Linked DNA regions of Homo sapiens. The protein of the gene in region 4 interacts with the protein of the main gene of each other region in a pairwise test. Each region holds a gene or a part of one and is shown on either strand. Other genes may lie near its edges.

Region 1 (7,028 bases), on a different chromosome or scaffold from region 4:
CTGGGTGTTCTCCTGGATGGGAGAGAAGACATGGCCCCAGGCCCAGAGAAATGAAGTGCTCAGGAGGACATGACCCGACCGAGTACGCGATGAGAGACGGCGAGGACTTGGTGAATCCCAGCAGGCAGGGACTCAGAGAGTGGGAGGGTGAAGAGTCATTAAGATGGCAGGTTTGGGTGTGTGAGCAAATGGAACTGACACCCTCAACAGATGAAGAGAAACTGGAAGAGTCTGCTCTAGGGGGAATGCGAGCAAACACGGCGCTTGCCATTTCCAAGCTCTGCGGGGCCTGCCTCCCAGCTCCAGAGGCATGCACTGCTGCCACAGGATCTACCATGCTGTGTGAGACAGTCGTGCCAGTGACTGTGCCCTGAAGAGCTGCGCCCTCACGCCCTGGAGCAGCTTCCATCTGATCTACCTCTGGAAGCCCAGGGCACTGCACATGGCGGTGAATAGTTACCTTCTGTTTCAGAAAGAATAGGTTCCCACAAGCCATTTTCTAGAAAACATTAGGTCTCTAGGTTTCTTTGTGTCCCATGCCCAGCACAGCACCTGGCCCATGGGAGGGTAAAACAAACGTTTCCTCAAGGACTGAATGCCTATGTGTCCAAATGACCTTAATGGAGGTCAGCTAAAGGTAGCAGTCAACACAGGGAACAAAACTTGTTTCATCTTTTTTTCCAACATCCTACAATCTACAGTCCCAACAAGAATGAGGAGACCTAGTTGTCTTCAGCCTAACCCAGCACAATGTGCAGCCTCCAGGTACGCCAAGCTCAAGGTGGTTCACTGTGAACTTCATTCATGAAACGGAAGACATATGCTAAGTTTGGACTCATCCTTAGCAAGGCGAAAAAAGTATTGTAAGAATTCACACATGAAAATGCTATTTTTCTCTCAAAGAACTAGAAATCTGTTTTCTTGAAAACGATTTATCCTAATTTATTCTGAAGTCTTTAAGTTACAGACATCATTAGAGGCTTCTCTCACAAGTACAAAAGTATGTCTTATTTCCAATAAAAAAACACTGTGTTGCAGGTTTCCAATTATTAACAATAAATAAGAGTATTCCCACCTGAGAGAAATGTTTCCCACAAATGTTACATTCAAAAGGTTTCTCACCTAAAACAAAACAAAACAACAACTTGTAAAATCATTACTAGTATTTGTTCAATAATTTTTTGTTTAAATGACCTCCTATGTACTTTCAAAATGGCATTACATTCTGCATCCTAACAGTATGAAAATAGGGAGTGTCTACTTCCTTATATTTCTCTCTTGCCTTTATTTCTACACAGAGATGATAAAAGTAATATTTTCCTCTAAAAACTTAAACTGTTCTCCAAACAAAACTTATGTTAAAATCAATGTATTTATTTGCATCCAGAGCAGACCCACGTTCTGGAAGTGGTCTTTTCCTGTGGTTGAGTTTTCCTGCTGAACAGCACGATCCCGCTCACCTATTCTTCAGCCTGATGCCACCCAACCACCAATCCTAACAGACACAGGGTCACTGGTTCACACCACACAAGGTATGAGCACAGAGAGCCCCAAACACAGTGGGTCGTCCTGAAGCATGAGTGTGAAAAGGAAAGAGCCCCTCACCACAGTCTTCCTGCCTTGGTTCTCACGAGAGAAAGTAAGATTTCATTTTGGGAGATGTGCTCCTCTGCGGACTTCTTTATCACCTCTAATTTCAATAACTAAGTAACTGCGCTTGGGGACAGAACAGATTCTAAGAATGGTACTCTACTACAAAAAAACCACAGCTGTTCTGAAATGTGGCCTACAGAACATGATCTGAATTTAAAAGCACACTCCATGGTACTGCCTTTAATCTATATAACGCTAATGAATAGACTTTGAACACTAAGAACCTCTCATTTTCTCCATTTCCCTGAAATCAAATGGTTTCATTAAGATCTTCTTTAAAAAGTAACAATAATGTTTTCCCTTCCTACTATATCGTTGGGGCTTGCTACCTTGAAGAAAGCAGCTTGCTAGCTTTCTGGGCTCATTCTAGGATATTTTAATTTTATTTTATCCTGAAAATGTCTAATGGCTTCCTTGACCCTGAATAATTATATTTATATTAATAATAAATTAATAATTACATTAATTCTGTATTGCAATAAATGAAACTACATTTATGTCTGAAATTATTGGGGGTGACAGATAATAAGTTAAAGCCCCCATAAGAAATATAAGAATTTGAAAAGAGAGAGAGGTCACCAGTTACTAAGACTAATAAATGACCAAGGTTAACAATCCTACTCCAGTAGGCCTCAGACTTTTTGGCCTCAGGACCCCTTCACCTTAAAATTGAGGTCCTAAAGAGCTTTTGTTAATATGGGCTATAGCTATTGATATCTACCATACTGGAAATGAAAACAGAGTGACCTTTAGAACAGGTAAATACACACTTCACAGGCCACCAGGGTGAGGACTTCATCACACATCATGTAGCTTTGGGCAGACTAACTGTACACTCATAAGAGGAGGAAAAAACAACTAACATCTTAGACAATTTTGAAAATAGTGTTGGCCTCACAGACCCCCAAAAAGGGTTCCCCAGACCATACTTTGAGAATTGCTGCCCTTCTCGGTAGAATATTTATGTGCCAGTAAGCATCTTTGCCATGACTGTATCTGTCATTCAAAGAGGTTCTCCCAGAATAAACAATTTTTGATTCCTTTAAAAGCTAAGCAGGTAAGTTTCACAATAAAAAATTACAGCCATCGGGCCAAGCGTTGTGGCTCATGCCTGTAATCCCAGCACTTTGGGAGGCCGAGGTGGGCAGATCACTTGAGGTTAGGAGTTCAAGATGAGCCTGACCAACATGGTGAAACCCTGTCTCTACTAAAAATACAAAAAAATTGGTGGCGCATGCCTGTAGTCCCAGCTACTCGGGAGGCTCAGGCAGGAGAATCAATTGAACCCAGGAGGCAGAGGTTGCAGTGAGCCGAGATTGTGCCACTGCACTCCAGTCTGGGCAACAGAGCGAAACTCTGTCTCAAAAAAAAAAAAAAAAAATTGCAGTAATCATTAGGCTGTAGGAGATTTAGGCAAACAGAATCATCTAAAGTTTTTTCAGGGCAAAACTAAGTCTGTGATATTGCCTTCACGTGGAATAATTTTGAACTACTAGTGATAATAACAGTACTTTATATTCAAATGCACTAAAATGTATAAAGGGCCTTCACAATTATCAAAGAAATCTCCCAATAATACAAGGTCGTAAAATGCAAACTGTGAATCCATAGTGATAACAGAAGGTCACATCAACAAACACAATTACACAAACACCGTAAAAGCAGCTGCTGTGGAAGCATCCTGTTGCATGTTACTTCTCATGCCTATAAGGTAATTGTTGTTCATCTGTAATGTGCTATTAAACTCATGTTTAATTATAGGAAGAAAAGTAATATATATGTATTGTATAACATAATGTGTGTGTGTGGAGATATATATATAGAGAGAGAGAGAGACACACACACAGAGAGAGAGAGAGAGAGAGAGAGAGAGAGAGAGAATACCTTAAAAAAATCTTTTGGGAAAGAGAAAGAGGCATGAATTAAGATAACAAAACTTTGAAAATTCAATGTTTAAATTGGAAGAATTTTCTTTTGAGAATATCAAATGGTTAAAGCTGATTCTTATTAAAAAGTTTACTTCCTGACTCCCAAATTAGAATTTTAAAAATTAGACACTCAAATTCCTTCCAAGAGAACTTGTAGAATCATTCAAAGTATATTAGGTTAGTCTAAATTAACCTATATGATGCTTTCAAAAAATAAGCTTAATCTAATTCTAAAAAGACAACTAAATATAGCTTATCCATTTTAGAATTAATTTGAAATTCTGGGTGCACCAAAATTACTATACTTTCTTTAGAGACAGATGGCTTGTCATATAAAAATGTAGTTGAAATAAAAATTAAAAGTATGCACCTTTTTAAAGTGACTTTATAAAACCATTTACAAAACTTTAAGTCAGATGCATCACCAAAAATATAAAACAAAAAGTAGTTAATCCCCCTTATTTTGTTTAAAATCATCAATGACATCAAACAACAGCAAAACTTCTTACAAAAACAAGAAGAGCCAGTGGTGTCTGAGCATCCGCATTACGTCCTTCCCTTCTGCCTGTGGGTACTGAATCAGTTACCTGTATGAGACCGTTTGTGAAGCTCCAAGTTGCTTGGGTGTTTAAAAGGTTTCCCGCATAATTCACACGCGTATTGTCTCTGGGACTGAAGTGTCTGGGACTGGTCTTCCAGGGCAGCCGGGTCTTCAGGCCTCTCCGTCTCACTAATGCAATTAAAATTCTCACAACTGACGACTTCTTCACTTTCTTTTTCTTCAGCACTTTGGCTGCTAGCTTTCTCTAGGGTATTTTTACTAGCAGATTCCAACCTCTTTGTCAAACCATCATCTGACTTGGGTTCAGATACTTGCTCTGCGTATTTCTGTGACTTCAGGAAATTGAGCTTCTTCAGATGAATGGCCTTTTTGAGCCTCATCTGCTTGACAGGTTGTTGGCATGTGGCGTCTGACTCAGGGTGTGGGGCAGAGTCATTCACAGGCTGGGCCAGGAAGTTGGAAGGTAAGTGCTCGGGAGACTCCAGGATGCATTCAGAATGACTGACGGCACAAGGCTGGCTCTCTACCGTGGTAAGGTCTGTAGAGGTGCTGAAAGCAAAAGGCTGCTCAACAACTCTCTCCTGACTGGGACCAGCTGCGTGTTTATGGTACTGCTTACTGTAAAAGTTTCTGAGTTTGTAATAGTAATTTGGCTGTTTGAAAGGCAGTTCTGTGCAGCTGCCATCTGAAGTATCAGGAGCTTGTTTTGAGATTTCACCTGCGGAGTGATGACGATTAACTGATGGTGAAGCATGCGGATGCGATTCATCCAACGTTTTGTTCTGCTGTGCATCTGCTGAACATTCCTGCAGTAAATGAGGGGGGTAGTTTTCACTGATAACACAAGTGGCATCTGGGGTCAGGGTGCTTTGTAGAGACAATGTACTATTACAAGGCATGCCAGGTGGCTGTACTACAGTGGCTGATTTTAAAAATGTGTGACACAGACTCAGAACATTTTGAACTTGCAAACACTGTGCTGTGTCCAGCATTACTTGTATATTGTCCTGGTTAAGATCTAGATGAGAAGTGTACATGAAGTCCAGGATCTGCCCTATGCCACTGACATTTTTAACATCCAAGTGAAAAACATCATTCTTCTGGCTTGAAGAATTCTGAAAGAGGCTCCTGGTAAAAGAAAGAATATCTGTTTACAGTGCCAAAAATTCACACCATCTTTTTCTTATAAATAACATTCATATATTAATATTAAAAAATACTATCCTTCTGTGAATGTCAAAACTTTTAACATAAGTACATTTTAATCCTTTAAAACAACCTGGCAAACCATCCAACTAAATAATTCAGATGAATTAAATTGGTGGATTGGGTATGCAGACTTCAAAATATATCTCAAAGTAAATTTTGAAATATACTCAAATTTACACAATAAAAAATTACATACATTTATATGACTGATAAACCACAAATCAAGAAGTTTCTAAGATAATTCCCAATATGATCTAAGAAATAAAAGATTGCTCTAAATATTTTTTCGAAAGGTAATTATCCATATATATTAAATACATACTAATAGAGTACACAAAATTAAATAATATATACTTTTCACTATTTCATAGTCTGACAAGTATTATATTTTAGGCCATAAACCATATACACAAATATTTCCACATCTAAGTGCCTAGAAAACTTAAAAAAAAATAGCTAGAATAAACCAACCCTCCACATACATTCCTTTGTAACCAGTAATTTATTTGGCTGTTAGGTTTTTCAGCCAGCCAGTGGTTCAAAAACCAACAGTGAGAAAAACCCTAAGAGTTAGTGAAGACCAAAATGCACTCTAAAGCCCAGGCACTTTATTCTGGGTACAAGCCAAGGTCACAGGTGAACAAATTTGTATTATGTATGAAATAATAAGCTCAGGTAAGTAAGTTGAAGACATTTTGTCAAATACAATCACCTATTTCCCCCAAACAGCCTTCAGTTCTGTTTTTAAGCGCAAAACAGCCTGTGTATCACAATATCAAAATTTAACTGTCCTGGGAAGACAGAAAAAACAGGTGATAGCAAACCCAAGAGTTTGCGACCATTTTTCCTAGGAACAAAACCTGCTACCTACCTTAAGAAGCTGATTCATTACAATGTGTAATGTGGTCTATACAATAACTGAGACTCAATTTGATGATTCAGGATTATCAAGGAAAGAGCAAATCATGTCCCACGTTGTCTACTAGAGCAGTAAAACGGTATGCATTTTGGAAACAAAAAGTACTTTAAAAAAAAAAGACTTTGTATTTAAAGAGAGAGAAACCTGCTAACAACAAAATGAACTTATGCAGAATCACTTAACTCTAACAATTTTTTTTTTTTTTTAAGAGACAGAGTCTCCCTCTGTTGCTCAGGCTGGAGTACAGTGGCATGACCACGGCTCACTGCAGCCTCCAACTCCTGTGCTCAAGGGATCCTTCCACCTCAGCCTCCTGAGTAGCTGGGAATACAGAATAATGTTTAAATAAGCTGAAACACAACTTCTTAGTATTATTATTTATAAATAAATATTTCATATAAGCCAAAATGATTATAAGGTTTTCTTAGAATATTCAAATGAGAAACAAAAACTAAAATGCTTTAATTAAGAAAAAAAAGAAAAGAAAAATCCAACACCAAATATGTTTTTCCCCTGATTTCTTATCACAGAAAAATTCTGACCGGGAACTTAATTCCTCCATCATTTTATCTTGAAAGGATAAGAAATATATGTAGAAGACTGACATTAGCCAGAATTAGTAAAATGAAAGACAAACAACCAAAATACTTTCAATCATCCCAAATTCATTTTACTTAAGAGCCTCTTTTCTTTTCAGGTTACTCTAAACACAAAAGCAAAAATAATAAAAATGGTTAACAAACTTAAAAATTAAAAC
Region 2 (7,028 bases), on a different chromosome or scaffold from region 4:
AGGTAAACTTTACCCCTTGAAGTTTCAGCTCTCTTGCCTCAAGGTGAAAGCCCTCCAACCCATATCTTAGGTTATGGTGAGCATCAAGTGACGATGCTGTGTGCTCATCACTTATGTCATCACATCATGGTGAGCACACAGCAAGTGCCTATTCCTTGACTTGTATTTATTCGTCACTTCCTACTTACCATAGCAGTGCCCCATCTACTCTCCCATTTGATCCTATGGGGAAGATAGCATGGATGCTAAATTAGACCCACTTTTCAGATGAGAAAACTGAGGCCCTACAGCATTCTTAGGCTTATCTAAGGTCACCTATTAGGGGAAGAAATAAAACCAGAATCAATCCAGTCTCTCAACTCCTCACTGTGATACCGTTGTTCTCAGCTGCTCTAGGAAGCTGGATTGGAAACTTGCCAGTGTGTCCCCATTTCACATTGGGAGATGAGAGGCATGAGAAGCTCCATAAAAACAACCATGTATTTTATTTTTAAATCATAGGTGGTGCTTCTATGAAACTCCTGCCTGTGCTAGCCCTGTGGGTCAACTCATTATAGAATCTGTGTTTTGCGTAGACACTTTATAGCCACATGACAGGCATGTTTGAGACCTGCCTTCAAAATCCAAGAGAGCCCTGGACTTTAAGCTACGTAGCCAGTGTACCTGGGACCCAAAGAGTGATGTATGGAAAGTGTCATTCTCAGAGCCCAGTGTAAAATAGACTTTTACCAAACAGAAGCTCCCTTTAATTTGCCTCCCAAGACAGCTGACGAAATGAAATGAGCACTGGCCTGGAGTCTGATGATGTGAATTCTAGTTCTGGCTCTCTGATCCCTAGTTTCTTCATTTGTAAAGAGACACTGACACCTCCAGATCTTGCTGCTTCAGAAGCATTCTTTGTACATTTATATGATTTCTTTATCAGATCTGTGAACTTATTTTTTTCTCTCATTAGCCTGTATACTATTTCTTCCAAATTGAGTGGCTCTGTTAACTTTCCTTACTAGAGCTAATAAGCCTTGGGAAGGAACCTTAATGGTGTTCTGTGATATCATCATAAGGTAGGGTGGTGGAGCCCAAAAGACTTAGTTATAGTAGCAATATGATAAGGGATAAAGAACAACTATCTGAGTCCAGCTGCTTGGGTTCAAATCCCAACTGTACTCTACTAGGTGGAGTTGGCCAGGACCTCTGTTTACATCAGCTTTCTCATCTGTAAAGTAGGCTCCATAATGGTGCCAGTCTCACTGGATTGTTCGGAAGGTTAAATGAGATAGTGATGTAAAATGTTAAACGCCGTTCTTGGCATGTGGTAAGCAATCAGTACATGTTGGATGTTACTCTTATTGTTCTTGCCTCACTAAGATCATGTGAAATCAAAATGATGATTCCGGCCAAGAAAGTCAAGCCCAAAAACTTGTTCAAAATTACATAGCAAATCATTAGAAGAACTAGGGTGAGAACCCAGGTCACTTGACATAAGTAAGCACGAGAGTCTATAGTCCATCTGTCGTCCGACATTCATTGGCATCTGGACACAAAGCTCAGCACCCTTCAAGGTGAAGACTGTCAAGAGCCCAGCTGATTGGCAGAGAGGAAGCTATGAGGCAGTGTAGCATGATGGCTAAGAGCACAGACTTGGAGCTGAATTGCCAAGCGCAGGTGACCTTGAGCAAGTTACTTTAATCTGTGACTTAGTTTTCTCATCTGTAAAGTGGAGATGATAGTAGTGCTTACCTCAGAGACTTGTACATGTTCTAAGCCCTTTATAGCTTGCCTAAAACATTGCCAGGCACATAGTAAATACCCAGTAAATCCTGAAACCTGCAGATCTCTTGACTGAGCAGCCTAGGGACCCTCTGGAAATGCTTTCTGGCTTATGCCCCATGTGCTGATAGCAGTGCTTTCCCCCATGTGGCCTTAATAACTTCTCTAAGCCCTGTCCCACCTCTTGGATTAGATCCTCAGACCCCTGGTGAGGCAGGGAGAGGAGCCAAGAGCCTTCTGTAACACAGGACAAAACTGCAGCTCAAAAAGGGGAGGCAGCATGTCCAAGGCTCCACAGGCAGGCAGAACTAGGACTGGAACCCGAGCCCCCTGGCTCCCAGCCCAGGGTTCTTCTTGCCACCCTGTGTCTCAGCTGTAGAATGACAGGACAGAGAAAGAACTAAAAGTACATCATGGCGTGAATTTCTGACCAGTGGCCAAGCTAGAATATAGCCCTGGATTTCAGACATAGCTACCTCCCGCTGAGAATCTTGGCACCCCCATCATCACCGGCTCTCAGGAGAAGCAGGATTCAGTGAATGCTGTCTCTTAGATGGAGGCATGTGCCAGTAGGAGAGGAGCCCGGGGGACTGTGGGGAACTGTGGTCCTGGCTGTGGCTAGACAGGGCACCTGTGGATGCCTTTACAGCTCCCTAATCAGGTAATGCTTCTTGAAAACCAGTGGGCACTCTGCCTGTGTTAACTCTTCAGATCACATAATGCAAGCTGTTCTCTTCCCCAAGGGCTAACCATGGCCCTCACCCATGGGGCCACTTCCTCGGAAATCACCCCTACACCCTGTGGTGGAGAGAAAAGGGCTGTAAAGCTATGTTATGGATATCTTTTTTAATGAAATGAAGAAATGTAAATACATTTTAAAATATATTCATTTTGAAGAAAAGTAAATCAAAGGGACACGGGCATCACACAGACTTGCAGAGTTGAGAGGCATTCTGGAGCCATCTGAGTGTTTCTCTCCTCCCTCGCACCACAGTCCACACTGATCGTGACTGACTTTGTCCATGTCTGCACCATTCGATGGGGTGCTTCTTAAGGACAGAGACCAAGACTTGTTCCCTGTTGTAACTCCGGTGTCCAGCACACACAGGATGCCCTCAGGAAACGTGGAATGGATGGATGGGTGGGTGGATGATGTGGTGATCAGAACAGGAGAGGCCTCCCTGAAAGAAGACACCCCAAGTCAGATTTAGAAGGTCAGGTACATGATTTGGGTCTTTTAAGGAAGAGAATGAGGGACTCGTAGGAAATGAGTGCACAGAAAAGGAGACAGGAAGTCAGAAAAAAACATCTTGAGCGTGAGATAGAAGATCTTATGTTGGTGTGGTGTGAAAGCCTTGGGGATAGTTGAGGTGCTCTCCTCCCTAACCCTTCTCTTCACTTTCCTGCCTCCAAACGGAGTTGGTACTTGCTTGTTTCCACACAGGGCTTCATCAGGCTGGACATGTCCGAGTTCCAGGAGCGACACGAGGTGAGTGATGACAGTCCTTGATTGAAGCATGGTTTGGAGGGCTTGTCAGCATGACTGCCGGGGTCTTGTCATTTGGGCCTCAGATAATTCCAGCAGCCTTGGGATTTGTCGTTGGGAGCACAGGTGTGCAGCAGGGTCACTGATTTGTTTCACATAGGATTTGCTCTGAAGAATAAACATAGAGAAGATCTATCTGCCACACCAGGAGATGGACAGCCAATCATCTCTGTTGAGAGAGGCAACCTTAATAGCGTATAAAGTCATCTTCCCATGCATGCCCCATGTTGGAAACTAAAAGCACAGAAAGGCCTTCCTAGCATGTTTCCTTCCTTCTACCAGGTGGCCAAGTTTATTGGGTCTCCACCAGGCTACGTTGGCCATGAGGAGGGTGGCCAGCTGACCAAGAAGTTGAAGCAGTGCCCCAATGCTGTGGTGCTCTTTGATGAAGTAGACAAGGCCCATCCAGATGTGCTCACCATCATGCTGCAGCTGTTTGATGAGGTGAGTCACCTTGGGCCAGGATGGAGCGGGGGGACACCTGGAGATAAGGGGGACTGTGAACAGCAGAAAGCAAGGGCCCAGAGGCTAGCTGGTCATTCCTCGGCTTCCTGCTCCCGCATGTGTACATTCATTCATCCAGTAGGTGCAACTTAGCCCCTCTGCACTAGGGCCTGGGTGGGGCACTCAAGCGAAGACCAGCCCTGCCTAAGAGTTGAAATTGTGTGGCTGCTCAGCCCACCTTCTAGAGAGACATGGTATGGCAGAGGTGCCATGAGAGCGAGACATGAATTTTTAGTTCCAGCTCTGCTCCTGACTGGCTTTGTGGCCTTGGCAAGTCACTGCCCATCTCTAGGCATCAGAGATCTCATGTGACAAACGAGGAGGCTGAATCAGAGAAGCCCCAAAAATCCTTCTGCCTCAGACAGCTCTTGTTCCTCCCTGTGTGCCAAACATTGTCTCCTGCAGTTCTTTAAAATGCTAATATTGTTGCTGCTAATGGTGAGATGCTGATACTCTGATTCATGGAGCCTTTCTCTTCTGAGAATCTGAGGGTTCTCACAGACTGTCCAGTTCCCCTGCTCGTAGGGGTAAGTTCTAAATGGAGAGAAGAGCTTACTTCTATCCAGTACCTTCTGTGTACTAGACCTGTACTAAAGACGTTACAGCCATTATCACTAATCCTCACAAGGTAGGTAGAAAAATTCCTAACAGGCAAGGGAGAAATTAGCTCATTTTTTACAGATGAAGAAACTGAGGTTCAGAGAGGTTATAAAAGACATGCCTAAGGCCACAGCTGCTGTGTAAAGAGCCAAGATTGGGCTGCAGATATGTCTGATCCCAGAGCCCCAATTCTCCCCCCATACCACTGTTTACCTTGAACCAGGCGAGGGATTGCTTACGATCACGGAAGAAGATGACTTCCACCTTTTCAGGGGCCCTGCTCCATCAAGAGAGCGTGAGGAGCCAAGGACTGAACCGGGGATGAGGCCTCTCTTCTCTCATGCAGGGGCTATATTAGCTAGCACCTGGCCATGAGTCCAGCTCACCTTTCTACCTAGTCTCCTGCAGCCCTAGGAAAACAAAAAGGTGGTTTGCTTCCCATGTCATAGGAGGCCACAGGGAGGGGACTCCTCCAGACCGAACAGCACATCAGGTACCAAGCCAGGAAGATCCAGATCCAGATCTCCTACCAGCTGCTCACTGCCTTCCCCACCTGGCCCAGCCTCCTTGCCCCTGCCCGTTCCGTTGTATCTTCCTAGCCCTTCAGCTGCTCCCTGCCCCTGAACCTCTGCTGAGGAAGAAGAGACCAGTCCTTCAGAGGTCACATACTCAGTTACTCACGTGTACACTGAGGCCTCTACTCCATTCCAGCCTCTTGATGGGATTCAAGTGCACAGCTATGACCAGACCCGAATGTGCCCTCTTGGAGCTCTCTGCCTGGTAGACAGGTGGAAAGGAGACATGGTAGTAGCTGGCATTTTGCATTTTGTGTGCCATTCGCTGTCTTCAGAGGCTTATGTGTATCAATTTAACCCTTTCAACAACCCTCCAAAGCTAGCTATTATTACGGCCTCCATTGAACAGATGTGGAAACTGAAGCAAAGTAAGATTAAGTCATTTACCTGTGGTCATGCAGCTGGGGAGAGAGAATCAAGGATTCAAACCCAGGCAGCCCAGTTCTAGATCCTGCAGCTTGAATGACTGCCACGCAGCTAGGGCCAAAAGAGCGAGGTCCGTCTCAGTGAAGCACGCAAGGGACGGGACCATGCCGCTGAGGGAGGGTGAGCATCGCGGCCTGTTTGATCTCTGGTCTCCCTGGAGAGGCACCTCTGATGGCATTCTTGGCCCAAAAAACAGAAGGCAACTGCTGACTGAAGTACAATCAGCCATACATGGAAGCCCTGTCTCCCCCTCCTCCGTCACTTCACTCCACTGACTGCCTTTTAGGGGTTGATAGGAATTCCTTCCTGCAGCTGTTGTCGCCCCTTCCCCCAGCCCCAGCCTACTATAGTTTCTGATGCTCTTGGTTCCATTGACCAAAGCTGCCATCCAGGTTTACTCGATTTAGGCTCTTTGAGGATGGGCCCTTGTCATGTTCACTTGAACCATTCCCAGAGCCCACAAAGTCAGGGGAAATGTTGTATTGACTAATTTAATTCAACAGTAGTTTTAATTCAACAGTAGTTAGCAAACCTTCAAAGGGTTAGTAAGTGCTAGGTGAACAGAGTGGCGGGGCTGGCAGTAGAAACCTAATGTATAAAAGTACAGGGCATGAAACAGGCTGGCATGCTCAGGGAACTGCAGCTGGTCAGTACTGCTCGATTGCAGAGGGAAAACAAGGACAGAGTGCTAGAGACAAGGTAGGTAAGGTAAACAGGGCCCAGTTAAAATGCCAGGCACAGAAGTTTGCATTTCTCTGGTAGAGAGTAAGGAGCCTTTTAAAGACTTTAAGCAAGAAAGAAACAGTCAAATTTTCACTTTACAAAGATGCCGTGGGCAGCTGTGTAAAGAATGGATGAGAAGGGAGAGGGTCATTAACAAGGAGACTGCTGGGGAGCCCAAGCTACAGCTGGGGAGGCCATGGGCTGGAGAAACTACTAGAAGGTTGACTGAGGAGAGGAGGAGGAGCCAAGGGTGGCCAGTTGGCTGCTGCCAGTTGGCCATCAGCTAAGGCGGCGAACACAGTGGGAAGCCGCAGATTGAAGAGGAAGGTGAGGCACTGAGGTGTGGAAATGTTGAAGGTGAGATACCTGAGGGACATCCAGATGGAGATGGCCAAGGGGCCGTTCATCAGTTTTATGGGTCAGGAGTTTAGGAAAGGTCTGACTGAAAATAGCAGTTCAGGAATCCTTCAGCCCAGAGAGGTTAACGGAAGCCACAGGAATGGATGAGGTCTGTAACCCAGGGAGTGTATAATGTGCAGAGAAAAGAGGGCTATACACAGAGCCTTGGGACCTATCAGGGAAGTCAAGACAGACTCGCCAGAGAAGTAGGAGGCAAAACCAGGCCAGGCATGATGGGTCACACCTGTAATCCCAGCACTTTGGAAGGCCGAGGTGGGCAGATCACTTGAATTCAGGGGTTCGAGACCAGCTTGGGCAACATGGCAAAACCTTGTCTCTACAAAAAATACAAAAATCAGCTGGGCATAGTGACATGTGCCTGTAGTCCTCACTACTCAGGAGGCTGAGGTGGGAGGATGGCTTGAGCCTCAGAGGCTGAGGTTGCAGTGAGCAGAGATTGCACCACTGCGCTCCAACCTGGGCAACAG
Region 3 (7,268 bases), on a different chromosome or scaffold from region 4:
TTTTTAAAAAATGACACTATGCTTTCCACTAAATGTTGCTATGAACCTAAAACTGCTCTTTAAAATTACAATATTCAAGTTAAAAATATTTTTTTAGGCTGGGGATGGTGGCTCACACCTGGGATCCCAGCACCTTAGGAGGCCAAGGTGGGAGGACTGCTTGAGCCCAGGAGTTCAAGACTACACTGTGCAAAATAGCAAGACTCTATGTCTACAAAAAAATAATTTTAAAAAATTAGCCAGGTGTGATGGCACATGTCTGTAGTCCCAGCTACTAGGGAGGCTGAGTTGGGAGGATCACTTGAGCCCAGGAGTTCAAGGCTGCAATAAGCTATGACTGCACCACTGCCCTCCAGGCTGGGCAACAGAGACCATGTCTCTAAAAAAAGAATGAATAAATAAATAAAATATATTTTTTCAACATTCAATACTCCTAAATTTTATTTTTTAAAAACTCCAGAATTTCAAGAGAACAAATGAGATACACTATCCCATCACTTATTCCACGTAATTCAGGGAAAATGAGCTATTGCATATATATGAATTTTCCAGGTAATAAAGATTATTCTCCTTCCAAGTACCCAAGTTCTATTTAATTCAACCTATATGGGTTGAAATCTAAAATATAATATATATATATATATATTTTCTCAAATAAAATGGCTGAATCACATTAATTATTTGGGGGAGACACAAGATCATTACTAAAAATACCTTTTATTGTACTCTACAGCCCATTTTTAGTTTTACTAATTCACTGTCAGCTTTCACTTCTGTTCCCATTGTACTTGCATCTAACATTTAATACTTCTAATATTGCTGTGGGCTAGAAACTAGAGAGAAAAGTTTAACTGCATATTAAATCAGAGCTGAGATTCTTAAAAAGTTTTACCTGGTGTTTAAGGGCCTTTTCTACTCTAAATCTGGAGTTGAATTAAAGCTGTTGGAAGCCAGGTTTCTGAATATTTGGCTTATTGCTTATTATGGTAAAAAAAAAAATTCTATTTTTGAAATTACTTTCCTGTAATTTATGTAAAAATAAAAATTATGCAATGGTCCTGAAATTCTTCTCACCTTTGATCTATACATTTTGACTAGTTTTAGCCTCCGAAGAAGGTCTTCTTTCTCCTGAACCTGCTTCACCAATTTGGCTTTTTCAGCGTTTAATCTTTGTTTAGGAAGCTTCTCACTCACAAACTCATTTTGGAGAGCACTGCATGATCCAGAATCAAGTGACTGAGATTCACAGACATTGAGATTCTTCAAAGTATTTTTCAAATTTGTATTTTCTTCAAATTCACTGTCTATATGTTTAAAACTTTCTTGAAATTCCAAACAGTTTTCCTCTGTGGAAGATGCTGGTTTCTCTGAAAAGGTCTGATCATTTTCTTCACTCTCTACTTTAAGACGTTTCACCACATTGTAAGAGGAATTAAATGAAAATCTTGTTTTCCTTAATCTTTCTCTAAGTGTTGCACTCATAGGCTATAAAGAGCACAAAACATTAAAAATGTGAATCAAGAAAAACATTCTTAATGTCAATAAATCACCAGAAATAAAGTCCTTCCATTTCTATGCTAGACACCACTAGATGGCTTTCTGTCTCCACATCTAAAGAAGGCATCACAAAATGACTTTAATTTCTGGAAGCTCCATTTGTTTTATTTCCTTTTTACTTCAGCAAGATCAACACCTTTCCAAAAGTGTTGAGAAGTTTATCCCAGTAATCAAGGAACATTTGTTCAGTAACAAGCACATGCCTGATAGTACTCCAGGTGCTTCAGAATTACAGAGTAAGGAAAAGACCTAGACTCTGCCACTAAAGACCTTCATAATAATATTGCACAGATGCAAACTTTCTCCATCTGGAGTATTGTAATAACCTAATCTGAAACTAACTGAAATGAATTCATTCAAGAGGAAAATATGGAAGGGGGCTGGTGGGTGTCATATATGTCACCTTAGAAGAAAAACAAAATTATTTAATAAAATGTCTACTTATTTATGCTACACATTATGTTAATTAACAACCTTCCGTAGAATTTAAACCACCACTGCCACAATACTTAGAAACACATAATGGATCCACTGGAAGAACAAAGATTTTCATACTTGTTTTCGGGAACTATTTGTATAGGGAGATGATGGATTCGCAGAGGCCTGAGGAGTGCTAGGTAAAACCACAGCTGAGTCTGACGGACTTTCCATCTTGAAAGTGAAATCTTGGTTTTTCTCTAAAAAAGAAAAATTATAAAATAATCGAATTAACCACACCTCTCTATAGTCGACTTTTATCAAATAATATATTGTATTGGTGTACAAAGCATCCACAAGTAAGCCAGATATTTCTTCTAATTTCACTTTGTAATTCATTCTTGCTCTTTTTGCAGTTTTCCATTTACCTTCCCACATAGGGACCACTAAGTTTTTCATGATACATCAACCAGCTAGTATCTCATAGTCACAAGACTCTCCTTGTTTTCGTTTCATCCACCAAAATATATTCAAATTCTGCCTTGGAAGTAGGGAAGAATAACAGCTTTAGATAATCAGGAATTCTTTATTATGACAGCTTCATAATTCAAGAAGCTATAGCCGAAACCTTGACTCAAAAACAATAGGACCTGAATGTCACCCATCCTGAACTCTACAAGCTGTGACTAGAACCCGTTACCCTGCCGGCCCGAGGCATAAGAAACACAGCGGAGACGCATTTAAGCCCGTCTGTAGCCTTTTAGTTTAAGCGGCCAACAGGGACTGAAAAGGAGAGTGGACTGAAATTGCTTCCTCCGACAAAGGCATTAACTTTTGAGGGGTAAACTAGGGGCGGGAGTCGTCCCCTCCTTCCCCCCGTTGCAGAAAGCCCACTAGTTCCCCGGAGACCCCAGGCATAAGGTGAGGTTGAGTTCCCCAGACCCGGAAAGGGAGCTCAACTCGACTCCACAGCCGACTCCCGGGGAAGCCCAGGTGTCAGGGATCCCCCCTTCCCCTCAGCAGGGTACCTCCCTCCGCCATTCCCAGCGAGAGCAAAAAAGCGCGCGCACCTGCGGCCGTAAATCGATCCTGTGGCAGGGGCGGGGCCGTGCGGTAGGCGGAAAAGATGCGCAATTGGCCAGATTGCCTGACGCGCGAGGCGCCGCTTCACTCAGCGACTCAGAGCGGTGGGACTGCGCGCGCGCCTCCGCCAGCGGGTGGTTGGGGCGGGGCTTGGCCCACACGATGGGAGGCCCAGACGCATGATTGGCAGAATTAACCGGTGCGCGCGGCTCTCCCCGCCCAGCGCCCGAGAGCAGCGTGAGTGCGCGCGCGCGCGGCCGCGATCCGCAGCAGGTCTTCGGGGCGGGCGAGGCTGAGCTTCGGAATGTTAAACCAATCCTGAGGGGGGCGCGCTTCCGTTCGCGGCTTCTGTTGCCTTATTTTCAACCGCCTTCCCTTCAGGCTTCCTTGTTTTTGTGCGTCTGTGAAGTGCGCCTGAAAGTGCCTCTCCCCACCCCCGCCAGCCCGCCGCCTCCATTCTCTGGCTCCAGTCAGTCTCCTCTCCCTGCTAGTCACAGTGAAGGCTTTACTCAGACGTGGGGCGGCCAGAAGCCGCACGGCTGGCTGCATGTTAGATTTACAGCTTGTGGACTCCCCAGAGGCAGAGACCACAAAAGAACAGCGTTGGTTGGGTTCCAGCCTATTCCAGCGTGGTGGTTCCAGAGACCACAAAAGAACAGCGTTGGGTTCCAGCGTTGGGGTCCACATTTCAAACATGTTAGAAATCTATCCGAGAGTCCCGGCACTTTAGCTGAGCTCATCGCTAGCTTTTTTGGCTGCCGCAAACTCGGCGGTCCCGTCGCGAGGTTTTTTGTTGTTGTTGTAAACAAAAAACCGTTTCTGTACCTCAGTATGCAGGCTCCTTAGCGTGACCTCAAATCTTTTACTCAAATCTGAGGGAAAATGTAGCCCAAGGAAATTTGTTGTGGCGCAACACAGGAAGCAGAACAATCACTACATGAGATTGTGTCGGTCCAAAATTCACGTTTGAGACCGACAGGGCCCTTGCTGGCTACCGGGCAGCAGCATCCTCAGTCGAGAAAATCCCCCCCCCGCGCCCCGCTTCCAGTATGGCGAGGTTCTGTTGCTACGCGACGACAAAGTTAGCTACATTGGGTGGAGCACTGGGTTTAGTGAAAGAGTTGAGTAACTTCTGAGTCACGTGGAAGTTGGGAATTTCCAGGGGCCAGTGTTTTCAGTCCTCTTATTGAATGGCCATTTTAAACATTGATATCGTCTCTTTACTATTAATAACATCTGACAGTAGTGGCTTAGAAGTGGCCAAAAGGGAGTTACCTGAGTCTTAAGCAGTCAGGTATAATAATTACAGAACCTGAGGACTACCTAAGGGAATGATTAGGGGCGTACACGTTACAGTCAAATTGTCTAGGTTCAAATCCTGGCACCATACTTTATGTGCTTCTTAATGAGGTGATTCTGTGCCTCAGTTTCTTCACCTCTTAATATGGGATTGGAGAATTAAATGAGAACTGGTGAGAGGCAGCTGGAACAGAGCTAGGTATCTAGGAAGCACTCAGTAGTTATTTTATATATGCAAGTGTATTCACCATTCCCTAATGGATTTAAGGGAATGTATCACCTTCAGTTTCACCCCTTGATTTATCTCCCACCCCCCAAAAAAGCACATATATTTTAAAAAGATGCTGTGATCTGTAAGATCCCACACAATATAAACCATAAATAGCAGAAAATGTAGAGCCTCACATATGATTAATAATACATATTTCACTCCTAAAATTTTTTAAAATTACATAAGTTAACCCCAAGGAATTTACAAAGGGGAAGAGAGAACTCATGATTTTGTGATAAAGGTGTTACTCACCTCACCAAGCTGCAGGTCTCAGTCTGTACATTTATTTCTCCCTTTACTCATCCATTGGCATCAGTTAATCTCAAAGAAAAAGCAGAATGATTTGTCCTGACACTAGAAGCACAGTGCAGACTCTGCATATTCTTTATACCTCCCGGCATAAGGGCGAGTTGTTTTTATGAGTCTCTAAAATCAGCAGCTCCCAAATCCTTTTACCGTTACAACCTAAGCTTAGAGCTGTGTTTTTCCTGGCTGCAGAAAGGAAAACAACATTTTGCCTTGCAAATGTTCTGACTTGCTTATTATGTGAACTGGTATCTTAAAATGGGATTGTTTGGCCAGATTTTCAAAGAACTTCAGAACATATACTCAGAAAAACCCGTATTTCAGAAATGTGCATTTGTTGATCTACATCTCTGGCTTTCATGCATTATTAGAACTGAATTATCTCCCTGTACAGAAGTTTGTATTTTACTTAACCTTTTCACATAACAAACTGGAAATCCAGTTTCCTCTCGGCTTCATGTCAGAGATCTGGAATATAGCCCCCATACTTTTAATTGTACCTTTAGATAAAGCATAGCGTACATTTCAATGTCTTAAGTGACTTCAAATCTATTAGCCTGTGAAGACTTTGGTGTTTCTGACACAGGACATTGTATGTTTCGTATGAAACTTTTCAGGCAGGAAAAAATACTGGCCCAGTGAGCCAGGAAGCAAAGACTCCTTACCCTGCCATAGAGAACAATTTAAGCAGTAGACTCCAATAATAATAGTAATTAATATCAACTTAAGTCAGGCTTTCCTTGTGTTTTAAAATTTCTTCAATACCCAAGGCTACTGTTGGCTACTTTGTTACTCATCAGGGAGTGGTAAAATGCTTCGTTCTTGTCTGTAATTATTGTTGGTGGGATGATGATATAGACCTAAAATCTTTATGAGGTTTTACAAAAAAATTTTTTTTATTCTTATTCTTGTCTAATGGCAAGAAAAGAATAGTAAATAGTCTCTCAGTCTCTCTCTCTACCTATACAAAAAAGCACAAACACACGTACTTTTTAGCCATAATTAAAATGTTCATTTTAATTTTTAAATTCTCAGCTTTAGTATTATTTTTTAATCTTAACAATAGTCTCAAGCTAACTTAAATTATATTACCATAGACTTTTCTGTATTGACAAAAATTTTTGTGTCATGTAGACATAACTAGTATCCATAGGTTTTTTTTTAAAAGAAACGAATACATAGGCCGGGTGCAGTGGCTCACGCCTGTAATCCCAGCACTTTGGGAGGCCGAGGCGGGCTGATCACAAGGTCAGGAGTTCAAGACCAGCCTGGCCAATATGGTGAAATCCTGTCTCTACTAAAAATACAAAAATTAGCTGGGCGTGGTGGTGGGCGTCTGTAGTCTCAGCTACTTGGGAGACTCAGGCAGGAGAATCGCTTGAACCTGGGAGGCGGAGATTCGGAGATTGCAGTGAGCCGAGATCACACCGTTGCGCTCCAGCCTGGGCGACAGAGACTCCTTCTAAAAAAAAAAAAAAAAAGAAACAAAGATAAAAATATACGCTTCTGAAACTAGGATTAAAATCCACTTGGGTGAGGAATTGTGTAAAATCCACATGATTCTGTTGATTTATGATGTCCATTAGGACAAATTAAACAAACTAAATTTAATACAAATTTATAACACAAGAAAATCTGCCAAATTCTCTTAACTGACTTTCAACACTTCTTATGACATTTGTACATAAGTTGAAAATGCCCTTCAAAAACTCTTCTATGAGTTTCTCTTGCCATGAATTCAAGTCGCATCTTATAGACCCATCCATGGTAAAGTGATGTTTTAGTGCTGTGTAATTTCATAAATTTCTCTTTGAGAATAATTGACAAATATTTCTATTTTTTTCTCTATTACCTTAACGATCTCACATGGAATTCCATAATGTGTAATGGCTGCACTTGTAGAGACTTTGTTACCAAACATTGACCTTTATGATTTAACTATTTCATATTCTTTAGCCAAGATATGCAAGAGAGGGTTTTATTATCAACTTCAAGAGAAAAGGGCCCTTGACATAGCTGTTAGGCATGCCGGAGCGATTGCCTCACTGAGTAGGATGGTTACTTAGAACACGGAGATACGGAGAGGATCAGTATTATTAGCACAATGAAACCTTTCCATCACCAGGCAGCTAGAAAATGTATCTAATAACTAATATTCAGGACAATGTACTAAACAAGAACCTAAAAAGCTCCCTTCACCTGAATTTCCTGTCCTTTTATTCTCCCAGATCTGGCATTTTGTCAAATCCATTAGAGACTAGAGAGGCAATAGTGTCTATGATTCACTGCTGTTACTGGGTGTGTTCCCTTGGAGAAGAATAGAGTGATTCAGGTT
Region 4 (6,445 bases):
AACCCTCAAGACACAAGGTCTTCCACAAATTGTAAGTTAGTGTTTAGAAATGTAACTGCAGGCTATCATGACAAAGAATTTTAAATCTAGAAGGAGCCTATTATCTTACGTCTGATCCCTAAGGTCATAACACCAAGGATGTGGATGCTTGTTTGCTGACATTTACTCACCATTCCACCATGCTGCTTCCTGGAAATGTGTTATAATATTCTATATGCCCACCAACAAGAATGACAGAGAAATCTTCCTAGACCTGCTGCTTATAAAAGTGGGGAAGAATAGTCCAAAGTGACTTGTACTTATGGGTATGAGGCAGAACGCTGACCCTTAAGAAAACGTGACTGCATATTGAGAATACAGAATAAACAGAAGGCAGCAAGTAAAGTACTCTTACATAAAATGCAGCAAGGATGTACAAGTTGCCCAAGGAAGGTTCAGCCTAGGAAGAGAATATGACTCATTATTTGTCAGTAATATACAAGCATCACTGAGGACACTTATGTTTGGAAATTCTTTACAGAAATTTTATTTGAGATCTCAAGTCCTTATAAAAAGTGCATTACATCAAGATTGCAAAAGACACTTTTTAAATGAGAGACTTCTATCTACTCATCCATTTTACCCTATGATTCATTTCCTACCCTAACAGAAATGATGAAACAGTTTTTCTTTCTTCCTTTTCTTCCTCCTGCTTTGAAAGGGCAACTGTCATGAGGGATATCTTAACAGAATGTGCCAATTAATCCTTGCCAGGAGAGCAGTAGCTTCCTACTGGCTAAATTTAGAGAGCCCTTGGCATTCCTTTTGGTGTGGCTCAAAGATTATTACAAGCTGAATCTAAAAGATTGCAACCTACTACTTGCAATCTGTCTCCCTGGGCTCCTCTTTTACTCACAAACTCCACTCTAAAACAACCTTAAATTTTAAGCACTCAATAATTGCTTTAGAAATGAAGGGATCTAAAGTTAATTACCTTACCCTTGCAACTATTTTCTGTATAAGAATCTCAAAGTTAATAAAAATTATACAGATGAAGAATGACCTAATACTAAGAAGGGGATGAATTCTGAGAGCAAATACATTTTACAACCCTTGTCTCAAAATAAGATCAATCCTACAAAATACAAAATGTTAAGAATACAATTTACACAGTAAAAATGATTTGATTTGTTTTCAGTATGAAAGTACTTTTAATTTCTTTACTGCAGGTACAATGGCATCCAAGTCATCAATTTCTGTAATACAAAAACAGTAATAATAAAAGAGAGTAACTTTTTCTAGTGGTAAACTCACATGAAACAAGAACCTATATGCAAAGGCAAACCCCAAACATAAAGGCAATAATACTGGTGCTTTTGTGCACATGAAGTTTTTCTCCGATAGTGATGATAGATTATCACTGATTCGGATACAGATGCTTCACAGGGGCTCTGTTTATATAAGTTACCACATACCCACAAGTACCCTCTGATTCTAGTATTAACTTCATTAGCAGCATGTCCTTATTAACAGATCCAACTGCCCACATGTGTGATATGTTAGTGTCTCATTAGATCTGTATCACTACACGGGTGCATCTACATGATGAAATCCCAGGTAGAGGCGTCTCCTCCCTAGGTCTCCACGTGAGGACTTAGGAATTTCTTCTCATAGAACAGTCTTGTCCTCTTTAATTTTCTTGGGAAGATTTCTTAGTAGTGGATCACTCTAAGATGAAAGGTATCTGCCAGCTGGGTGCAGTGGCTCATGCCTATAATCCCAGCACTTTGGGAGGCCGAGACGGGAAGATCATCTGAGGTCAGGAGTTTAAGACCAGCCTGGCCAACACGGTGAAAACCCACCTCTACTAAAAATACAAAAATTAGCTGGGTGTGGTAGTGGGCACCTGTAATCCCAGCTACTTGGGAAGTTGAGGCAGGAGAATTGCTTGAACCCCAGAGGCAGAGGTTGCAGTGAGCTGAGATTGCGTCACTGCACTCTGGCCTGGGTGACAGAGAGCAAGACTATGTCTCAAAAAAAACAATTATCTGCCTAATCAAAAAGATAGCCTCATCGAGTGTACAAACCTCAAGTACAATATATTATAGAGCTTAGCCTGGTCCAGCTTACCAGATAAACCAATCCAGGCTCTTTTTTGACAGGCTCTTTCTGAATTTGATTTTTCTTCCTAAGACTATCTTATTCCAACCAGCCTAAGTTAGAATTCACTCTCTGAAGCTCCTGGCCACCAAAGGAGCAAAATCCTTTTTCTCATTATCCAGATCCCAGCCCTACTTAAGGTAAGCCACAATGGCAGGTTCTCTAGATACCCACACTTTTTTCTAGCTTATTCTGTTAAGCCATCATTAATAAACGCGTTCCCTTACATAAAGCATGCTTTCTTGGATTCCAACTCTCTCCATTGTGTAGCTGGATCTTGGTTGCTCTTCACTTAGCCTACACACATAGCCCATGCTCTCCTACTATTCATTTAGTTCTTTTAAGCTCCCGACTTCAGTCAGAATACTTGTCTGAACCCACTAACAAAGCATCAAGATATGGGAACAGAAACAATATAAGCAAACCTACAACAGAGAATTTGTTTACAATTCCCTTACATTGTGGTAAGGTACAAGATCAAGGTATTCCCTGACTCCGCCCCCTGCCCATTCTGAAATTACACCTGTTTTCTCATTAAGTGAGAAACCTGCCTTACAAATGAACCTCACAGCAAAGGACCTTGGCCGATATGGGAATTTCCTCAGTCAATCACACCATTTACATGAGAAAAAGAATGGATTGTTTTTTTACTCACTAAAGGTACTCTCCATGTCTGTTACTCAGTATGCCACCCTGCACCTACATGCTTAGTGACACCTATTAATTAAAAAAACTGTCATGTTTGCCAGATTTAACTTTCCCAATGTTAATGTTTAACACCAGAACTTCAACTTTGACCAAATTACAGAATTCATCTCCAGAGAAACCTGGCTTTCTGAAGCAAATGATCTTTATGAACCATGCTGAGTGTCATAATATCTGAAAGGAAGTTTCTATAGAAGCATTCTGAAATAAGTGTTACCAGCACACCCTATTAAAATATGTTTATTAATGTGCCAAATATTTATGAATGATGAGAACATCACTGCTTAAGTTAATAGCAATCCCAAAGCAAGAATCATATTATTCTATGAAACCAGGCTCTTCAGGATATCAGACAACACACTTATACAGTTTCATACCTCATCTCAAGTTTAACTTTCAAATTACATTTTCACTTGCTGTGATCTTTTTAAACATGAGGACAAGCCTAAAGCAAGCTCACTCATTGTCTCCCTTGCTTCCCCACTGCACATAAGACTGGTCACAAAACTTCCTTTATGTTCAGTAGGCTATATATTCTAATTAGATACTTCTTTCACTTATTCTTCTTATCAAGTTTTCATTGACTCATTCCCTTATTTTCATACCAAGCTTCATCTCCTCTTCTAAAAGCAAAGAGCCATTCTTTAAAAAAAAAAAAAAATCTTTCAAATGAGCTATACAGAAAAAATTCACTGGTGAATACATCACTTTAAAACTTTAAAAATCATTCTTAATAGTAAGATAAATAATTTTATAGCCATATGTAATTATATTTAAACTAGATAAGGTCTCTATTTTGCCTTATGAGTCCTAAGCAAATTTTTTCCTTTTAGGAGACACTACTACTAATGAAGCCCTCAATCTGACCCTCAGTATAAGTGTAATATTTCATCTTTTCCTTTCCACAGATATTTATGACTTTATGTTACTTCATATAACCAGAGAGGAAATATTATTTGTATATTTAAAAAATTTTGTAGATAGGTGGTATCTTAAGAAAAAAAAAGGAGGGAGGAAGGACCTTCTAAGATCATAAATCCTAAGAATATTTCTCATTAGACAATGACAGAGCCAGGGTTAAACTAGGCATGGACAGAATGATGCCATCTCTCATGATAAGGTCCTCCAACAAAGGTAGTTCCTATTGCTGTTAAGGGTCTGTGTTTCTGTTCTATGGACTAATCCAAACAAACTCTAACTGCTTGTAAGGAATGTGTTTCCAGAACTGTTAGTGGTTTCCAACCACTAGGTAAAAATACTAATCCAGTGACCAAGGAACACCCTTTTCTTAAATGCACTGACATTTTAAGACTCAAAATTTCACCATCACCACCAGAGATCTTACCTAAGATTTCAAGTAGATCATTAGTAAATGCCTGAAATGCTGGGAAAAATTCCTCGTGTTCTTCCAATTTGTAGATAATGCTGTTTAAAAAATGCACAATTTAAACCTGATTTCTAACTTTGGGTTCTTGCATCTGATTGCAAACAGAACATTTTCAAAATAGAAACTATATTGCTAATTTAAATATAAACTTAATGATCATTTACTACAGTCTTTTCTTTCTGAGCTTTTTGTTAATCCAATATCACTTTTCTTAAAAAAGCATTTCAATATCAATGTAAAATTTGTTAAATTCATATATAACATTCTTTTTTTTTTTTTTTTTGAGACAGAGTCTTGCTCTGTCACCCAGACTGGAGTGCAGTGGCGCTGTCTCGGCTCACTGCAAGCTCCGCCTCCCGGGTTCACGCCATTCTCCTGCCTCAGCCTCTCGAGTAGCCTCCTGTAGTGCCTGCCACTACGCCCGACTAATTTTTTGTATTTTTAGTAGAGACGGGGTTTCACCGTGTTAGCCAGGATGGTCTCAATCTCCTGACCTCGTGATCCGCCCACCTCGGCCTCCCAAAGTGCTGGGATTACAGGCGTGAGCTACCACGCCCAGCCAATATACAACATTCTTAACATGGCAAATTTCCCATTAAGCTCAAGGCTTCTTAGATCATGCTTTTACAGCATTTTCTAAAAATAATTGGCTTTTACACCCAGTATCCTATTAAACATTAAGAAAAAATATCAGGCTGGGCACAGTGGCTCATGCCTGTAATCCCAGCACTTTGGAGGCCAAGGCAGGAGGATCACTTGAGGTCAGGAGTTCGAGACTAGCCTGGCCAACATGGTGAAACCCCACGTCTACTAAAGTACAAAAATTAGCTGGGTGTGGTAGCGCATGCCTGTAACCCCAGCCACTCAGGAGGCTGAGGCATGAGAATTGCTTGAACCTGGGAGGCGGAGGTTGCAGTGAGCTGAGACTGAGCCACTGCACTCCAGCCTGGGCAACAGAGTGAGACTCTGTCTCAAAAAAAAAAGAAAAGAAAAAAAGAAAAAAAATCAGTAGTCAGTAAAACTGTGGGAAGGAAGAAATAGGCCAATAGCAAGATATATGTTCCTTTTAAAAGCACCAAGTGTCAGATTATGTAAGGGTTCTTCTAGGAAAACTTGCAAAACATATGGTTTATGTGGTATATATTGTGTGTTTCCCTTCACATATGCTGTAATATAAAATTGGGGGTCAGGTGTGGGGAAAGTTGCTTTAACTATAGCTACAATGTCTTGATATTTTCTAAAAATACCAGCTTTTATGTTATAGATGCCTAGTCTTTTAAAAACTCCTCAACATTTATCTTCTAATCAAATAAATATACTATTAATGATTATTCAGTGGTCTATGGTAGTGTCCTAAAAATAGAACTTATTGATATAATCAGAACTTACATGATGTTGCTAACAAGGTTTGAATTTCTCCATATATAATATTTCCTGAAAACAGGCTTATGCTGAAGAGTACCTGACCTTCTTTATAGGCCTTACAATCTATTTTTATCTTGAAAATATTTGGCATTTCCTCCATCCCTAAGGGTTTGAGATTATCTTAGATTGTCAAGTTACTTAAAAGATGCTATTCCAAGGCTGGGCATGGTAGCTCACACCTGTAATCCCAGCACTTTGGGAGGCCAAGGCAGGCGGATCACTTGAGCCCAGGAATTTGAGACTGGTCTGGGCAACATGGTGCAACCTTGTCTCTATCTCTCTCTCTACACACACACACACACACACACAAATTAGCTGGGCGTGGTGGCGTGTGCTTACAGTCACACACACACACAAAAGATGCTATTCCAAACAGGGAAGGTAAATAAGTTTTGAAAGTCTTTAATTTCACCCCTCCAGGAACTCTCGATAATACTTATTTTAATTTTTATTGTTTAGAGACAGGGTCTCACTGCCTTGCTCAGACTGGACTTAAACTCCTGGGTTCAAGTGATCCTCCCACATCAGCCTCCCAAGTAGCTGGGACTACAGGCGTGTGCCACCACACCCAGCCATTCTGGATGATACTTTGTAAACTTTTAAAACAAATACCTCTGGAGGTCTTCAGGTCCTAATACCTGCATAACCTGCTCATTCACATCTTCATTAATCAGCCTACAGAGTTTTCCAACAGTGCTTACTAGCACACACAATGAGGATGAACTATCTGCAAAAGAGAAATAAAAGGATATTTTAACAGAGAATTTCCAAAATTACATACATCAAACA

The links.
Region 1: the proteins of CEP70 (region 4) and ZBTB49 interact in binary tests that used the Homo sapiens proteins (3 or more experiments, as listed by UniProt).
Region 2: the proteins of CEP70 (region 4) and CLPB interact in binary tests that used the Homo sapiens proteins (3 or more experiments, as listed by UniProt).
Region 3: the proteins of CEP70 (region 4) and SFR1 interact in binary tests that used the Homo sapiens proteins (3 or more experiments, as listed by UniProt).

The regions. Positions count from the first base shown.
Region 1 is NC_000004.12:4,300,232-4,307,259, reverse strand, and holds part of ZBTB49 (zinc finger and BTB domain-containing protein 49), read right to left. Parts: intron 5,272-7,028; coding exon 4,169-5,271; intron 1,123-4,168; coding exon 1,076-1,122; intron 1-1,075. UniProt on the Homo sapiens protein: Transcription factor. Inhibits cell proliferation by activating either CDKN1A/p21 transcription or RB1 transcription.
Region 2 is NC_000011.10:72,298,532-72,305,559, reverse strand, and holds part of CLPB (mitochondrial disaggregase), read left to right. Parts: intron 1-2,598; exon of another isoform or gene 2,599-3,211; coding exon 3,212-3,256; exon of another isoform or gene 3,257-3,595; coding exon 3,596-3,757; exon of another isoform or gene 3,758-4,827; intron 4,828-5,098; exon of another isoform or gene 5,099-5,194; intron 5,195-5,379; exon of another isoform or gene 5,380-5,597; intron 5,598-7,028. UniProt on the Homo sapiens protein: Functions as a regulatory ATPase and participates in secretion/protein trafficking process. Has ATP-dependent protein disaggregase activity and is required to maintain the solubility of key mitochondrial proteins.
Region 3 is NC_000010.11:104,117,931-104,125,198, reverse strand, and holds the start of SFR1 (swi5-dependent recombination DNA repair protein 1 homolog), read right to left. Parts: upstream 3,029-7,268; 5' UTR 3,016-3,028; coding exon 3,003-3,015; exon of another isoform or gene 2,434-3,002; coding exon of another isoform or gene 2,235-2,433; coding exon 2,113-2,234; intron 1,486-2,112; coding exon 1,075-1,485; intron 1-1,074. UniProt on the Homo sapiens protein: Component of the SWI5-SFR1 complex, a complex required for double-strand break repair via homologous recombination. Acts as a transcriptional modulator for ESR1.
Region 4 is NC_000003.12:138,493,842-138,500,286, forward strand, and holds the end of CEP70 (centrosomal protein of 70 kDa), read right to left. Parts: intron 6,384-6,445; coding exon 6,269-6,383; coding exon of another isoform or gene 6,256-6,268; exon of another isoform or gene 6,043-6,255; intron 4,270-6,042; coding exon 4,190-4,269; coding exon of another isoform or gene 4,023-4,189; exon of another isoform or gene 3,495-4,022; intron 3,487-3,494; coding exon of another isoform or gene 3,422-3,486; exon of another isoform or gene 3,069-3,421; intron 1,236-3,068; coding exon 1,174-1,235; 3' UTR 503-1,173; downstream 1-502.